Linked DNA regions of Homo sapiens: region 1 is linked to region 2. Evidence: fine-mapped expression QTL. A gene starts in region 2. The other region holds a variant in brackets. All regions are shown on one strand. Distances are between the middles of the regions. Region 1 has its middle 4.6 kb from the start of LINC02577. Region 2 holds the start of CCDC71L (coiled-coil domain containing 71 like).

The links. PIP is the estimated chance that this variant, and not a neighbour inherited with it, causes the effect.
Region 1: its variant is the best candidate, but not a certain one, in a credible set for the expression of CCDC71L in aorta (GTEx, PIP 0.51).

Annotation. Positions count from the first base shown.
Region 1 is chr7:106,769,005-106,771,920 of GRCh38, forward strand. No RefSeq gene overlaps it. Among named protein-coding and RNA genes, the nearest start is that of LINC02577, 4.6 kb to the right of the region's middle. The variant G/A (reference allele first, on the strand shown) is at 1,327.
Region 2 is chr7:106,659,885-106,662,800 of GRCh38, forward strand. It overlaps CCDC71L (coiled-coil domain containing 71 like), which reads right to left and starts at 1,274. Exons shown (of 1, transcript NM_175884.6): 1 at 1-1,274. The coding sequence starts at 1,012. The coding sequence ends at 305. RefSeq lists an enhancer at 48-97 and a silencer at 448-717.

The sequences.
Region 1 (2,916 bases), 110 kb after region 2:
GGTTACTGACAATTTTCCCTCAGCAGGTAAAGGAATACATTTAGGAAATTTTTGTCCTGGATTCCAACAAGAAAGAAGGAGGTGTCAAATGCAGAAACAAGCAAACCTTGGAATAAAATGGCCTTGATGTTTATAATAGTGAAAAAGGTAATGGTCAGACCTTCAGAAAGGGGGCTTCATAAAAAGTAAGGAAAATAATAGTGCCCAAGGGAATATGTTTAGAAGAGGAATGTAGACTCTGAAAACAGGATTACTTGAGCATTACAAAAATGATCCTGTTTAGGAGGAAAGATATGCTGTCTGGAAAGAAAATATAATAGAAATAATCTCAGATAATTGACCATAAACAAGCTTGTGCTGAAAACATAAACAGCAAGAATAGAATAATAGTCTAGGAGCACACAGTTCTCAGAGAGGAGGTAAAAGGAGGGTTAGATCTGGAGTAGTAAGACTCGAGGTTCCTATGGCTCAGAGGACGGATGGGGTGGACAGACCCAAGCATGCGATAAAAGAAAGGGAAAATTTGTTTAGAGTATTATGAGAATAAAGTCTTAAAATAAAGTAGGGGCGGAGATAAATACTAAAGACAGCAAGAAAGCTGTTTTTCTTTTTAATCTCCGTAGCCAAGAAAAGATCTGGGAAGAAAAACCTATGCTGTATCTCAGACAATATCACCTTAGGCCAAGCATGGTGGCTGACACCTGTAATCCTAATGCTTTGGGAGGCCAAGGCAGGAGGATCACTTGAGCCCAGGAGGACCTCTTGCCCACCAGCCTGGGCAACAAAGTGAGACTCCATCTCTACAAAACTTTGTAAAAAATTAGCCAGGTGTGGTAGCACACGCCTGTGTTCCCAGCTACTCGGGGCTGAGGTGGGAGGATCACTTGAGCCCAGAAAGTAAACCCTCACTAGCCATGTTCACTCCACTGCACTCCAGCCTGGGCCACAGAGCAAGACCTTGTCTCAAAAAAAAAAAAAAAAATTACAATATAACCTTAACAAATGATAACATAATCAAAGAACCATTCAATTTTCTGCTTCCTTCCATATTCTAAGAGAGATGAACATCAATTTTGAAGCAAACATTATGAAGAGAGAATTAAAACCTACAATAGAAAAAGAGATAGTAAGAGAAATCTTCACTTACTCTGAATGACTTCAAAACTTCTGTTAATACAAATTCTATCCCAAAGTATCAAAAGAGTTTGCAGATGAGATCAGAGAACTGCTCCTGAGAATCAAGGAGAATGGAAAAGGTGACTAATGGCTGGAAAATGTTTCTACTTCTAAAAATAGTGAAAGAATGAGATCTGTATGTAAACTGAT[G/A]AGCCTCATGCAGACGCCAAACAAAATTCTAAAATGGATGATTTGTAGGCAAGATACAGTAAACAAATACTAACCAGTGTGAATTCACTAAGAACAAGTCATGCCAACCAGTCTCACTTCTTTTCTTAGATTTGGTTGCCTGTGTGTCAGGAGGAAGGCATGCACATGGTATGCCTTGGTTTTAGCATAGCATTTGCCAAATATCGTGATGCACACCTTTTGTTGTTAAGATGGAGGAATGAGGGCCCAGGTAACAGCAAGATGACTGGTGGTTTGCTGCATAGTTAGGCATTCAATGTCACCCAAAGAATATTGGCCAAAGACTTGACTTCCACCTTAAAAGGCAAACTCCAAGAATTTATGATTTGCTCATTTCTGTTCAATATTTTTGTCAAAAACATGAAAACCACAGAATGCATGTTTATGAATATTTCAATTTAAAAATTAGGGAGACAGAGCTAATACACGAGGAGACAATTCAAAACTATTTCTTCATATAGAAATCAGGCCCAAAACAAAGAAAATACAAATTATTTGGGATAAACATAAGGCCAAAAAAAAAGAGAGAGACAGAGAGACTAATAATACCAATAGCTTACATTTATTGAACAGTTACTATGCATTATATAGTCACATGCCATATATACATATGTTTTGAGACTGGATCTTGCTCTGTTGCCCAGGCTGGAGTGCAATGGCACAATCTTAGCTCACTGCAACCTCCCCGTCCCAGGCTCAAGCAGTCCTCCCACCTCAGCCTCCCGATAGCTAAGACTACAGGCACGTCACCATGTTTGGCTAATTTATATATATTTCATAAAGATGGGGCTTCATCATGTTGCCCAGGCATTATATTTTTTAACCTCATAACCACCACATTATCATTAGAATTATTGCTTTTAAAATTTATCAGCGAGGAAGCTAAGCCTGAGGGGCTAAGTAATTTCTGCAATTTATAGTTAGTAAGTGGCCAAGACTTAAATCCAGGTGTGCCTAAATTCAGGGCTTATGGTTTTAGCAACTTTACTAGTCTCATCAATGCAGGAATGGAGGTTACTTGGCATTAACTTATTTTGAGTTTTAATTGAAAACACCCAGATAAAAGTGTTAATATTGCACAGTAGCCACTTAATAATGCTATCTTCTTTCTTACTACAACATTGAAAATTTAGGAGAAACTTGATAGTTGAATTCAAATAATTTAAGAATTGATAAAATCTATGTAACTCAAAACAAAAAAAACTAAGATTACAGTTAAAAATTACACTGTGATATATATATATCATATATATATGATGGAATATAGGCAATGACTTATTTATGTTAAAAGATGGAAGAAACATAGATCAGTGTAGTTAAAGCCCAGTGTAGTTCAACCATATATATATGATATATATATGATGGAATATATATATATATATATCATATATACATAATGGAATTATATACATGATATATATCACATATATATGATGGAATATATATATATATATATATATATATATATATATATATATATATATATATCTCGCAGTTTCTTTATCCACTAATTGATTGATTGGCATTTGGGTTGGTTCCATGATACATATA
Region 2 (2,916 bases):
GTCCTGGAGACGTCTCAATCGGTGGTCAGGAAGAAAGGGACCTCCCCTGCGGGTCCAGCTGTCCCCTCCCTCCGCAGGCCGGGTACGGGAGGCAGCAGAGGGCACACCTGCCCCAGCGTCCAAGACGACCGCGCCGCGGCCCGGGACAGGGACAACCATCCGGCAACTTCTTCGCGCGTAAAGTGCATTGGGGGCCGGGGTCCTGGCCGGATCTGTAAACACTCGACTGACACTTGTTCATTCCTCCGGGCGGAAGGCCTGTCCCAAGGTCGGGGCCGGCAGGAGGCGCCCTGGAGGCCGCACCTCATGCCCGGGGCACCGGGAAGCGGCGGAGCCTCACCATGGGTTCCAGGTTCACTCGCAGGACCTGGCGCGCCCTGCGCCGCGCTGCCGCCAGGCTGCGCTCGCCCCACACGTCGCTGCCGACGCGGATGGTGGGGAAGGTGGTCAGCGTCGGGGTGGCCGCCCTCCAGATCTCCTCCAAGGTGCGGCCCCCGAAGCAGGGCCCGGGGGCCACGGGCTTGGCCGGGCAGCTCTCCTCGGGGGGCGGCGGCGGTGGGGGTGGCGGCCGGGGCTTCCTCCTGCGGGCAGCGGCCGCCCGGGCTCCGCGGCGCCTCCTCCTGGCCGCTGCGCGCGGAACCGGCCGGCGCGCCTGGCCGCGGGCTGTAGGGGGCCCCGGGGGGTCGGGTACCAGGGCCCGGCAGGAGGAGTAGCCGTAGACGTCCTTGCTGCGCAGGATGTGCGGGGAGAACTGGTGCTTGAGGCTGCAGAGGAAGCTCCAGAGCTCCGCGTCCGAGCTCATGAACTCCGTGCTGCGGGGCATGAAGAGCTTGAAGGCGTCGCCCAGCGCCTTGGTGCTGTCAGCCAGCGACAGTTGCGACCGCGAGTACACCACCTTCTCCTCCCGCGCCTCCAACCCAGCCCCGTCTTCTGCCCTAAAGTCGCCGCCCCGGGCGGCCGTGGCCGGGGCGACCGGGCGCCGGCGCCGCCGCCTCTTCATACTGCGCCGCATCGAAGGCCGCTCCGGGCCACTCACGCTCGCCGGGTCCCACTACTGCCGCCGCCGTCCCAGTCCGCGTTGGCTCCGCGGCGGCGGCTGCTGCTGGCGTCTCTCGCTACTTTTCTCGCCTCCGCCGCCGCCCCTCCCCCTCCGAGGGCGGAGGACGCGGGCGAATATCCTGCTGCCCGGTACAAGATGGCGGCCGGCGCCCACCCCTGGGCTTTGTCATTGGACGGCGCCTCGCCCCCCTGGTTTCTCTTTCTTCTCCTCTCTTGCCTCTTTTCGCCGGCTGCCTTTCTTTAAATGTGCCCGCCTCAGGCCCCTCCCACCGCAGCCCCGACTCCACCCATTGGGTGCTCTCAGAAGAGGGGCGGGGACTGATGGGGGAGAGGCCAGTTCCTGGAAGATGGTGCTGGGGTGGGTGATGGCCTTTGAACGTAAGTCAACGGTTGGGTGGATCTAGGAGGGCTGCCACGTCTAGAGTAAGAGGGTGGATGTTGGCTACACCATGGGAAGAGTGACTCTTAGAGTGAGGGGGTGTGCAGTTGTGGATTGAGCTGGGAGCTCTACCAGTGTGGATAACAAAGGGAGATTTCCCTGAAGGATGTTCCTGGTATCATCACAGCTAGGGAATTTGGGTTTAAGTCTAGGGGAAATGGGCCTTTCGCAATTCCCATCCACCCTCTCAAAGGCCTCTTCTGGCATCTTCATTCAAAACTCTTCCCTGTCTTGACCCCAGCCCATCTCAAGAAGCCAGTAGTAATCCAGAATCATTCAGGTAATGTGCGTGGCTGGCAGCTGAGAGATTTTAGTCTCCCTCTGGACACTGGAGCCATCTTCATATTTAAGAGAGACCCTGCTTATCCAGAAAGCAAAACATGTCATACCCTATAAAACTAAATACTCTTTGCTCAAGTTGATCAAAGATCTATTACAATAAAGCCATTCTGTGAAAAGAAAATATAGTTTTAAATACACAGTTCTTTATGGATGCCAATTCGTTTTTCATTTAGTTTTAAAATGTCAAAGCCACCCCTATCATTTAGAAAGGATGCATCATCGCAGACAACAGATAAGGTTTCGTTGAAAAACACAAATTGTTCAAAACACATTACCTTTTGTATTGGGAGGAGAGTAGTGGACATCCTTTAGTCATCTTTTCTGTCCTCTATACCTAACTCAGTTCCTGTCAGGTAGTGGACACTCAATGTGTTTGCCGAATGAATCAATGAAATACCACCGATTATCCCAAATAGAGTCAGAAATGTTGAAACTGCTTAGAACAGGACAATTAGATATTTTATATTGCAATTTTCACAGAACTCCTTTAAATTTCTTAAGGTTAAAAGAAAAAATCTCCTGACACTTAGAACTTTGAGGTGGGCATGTGGATTTTACCCAGGAAACATCTTATTTTGCAGTAGTGAACAAATAAAGTATAGGAGTTTTGTGATTTACATGTAGTTGCTAATGGTTTCCTCAAATATTTGACCTGAAAGAGACCTAGTTCATTCTCCTTATTTAACAGGTGAGGAAATCTGTACCATAGAGGTTCAGTAACACAGCTGGCTGATAGCAGAACTGGGATTCTAAATCCTTCGATTTCTAATCTAGTGATCTTTGTATTTCACTGAAGGTTTTTCAAACTGTGCTGTCCAGACTCTAAGGAATTCAATAGAACATGCTTTATGCATAAGTAGAATGACGAAGGACAGAGCTGTACCCCTATTCCTACTTCCACCCCACCCAGAATTGAGCAGTTTTTCTCTGTCTTATAATAGATTTATGAATAATATTTTGTTTGTTCAGTTTCAATAAAACCTAAAATAAATAATTTGAAAGCTCTACACCAGAGATGTCAAATTCTTGAAAGCTCTCACCACACAATGAGTTTATGGCAAAAATAAAACTCCACA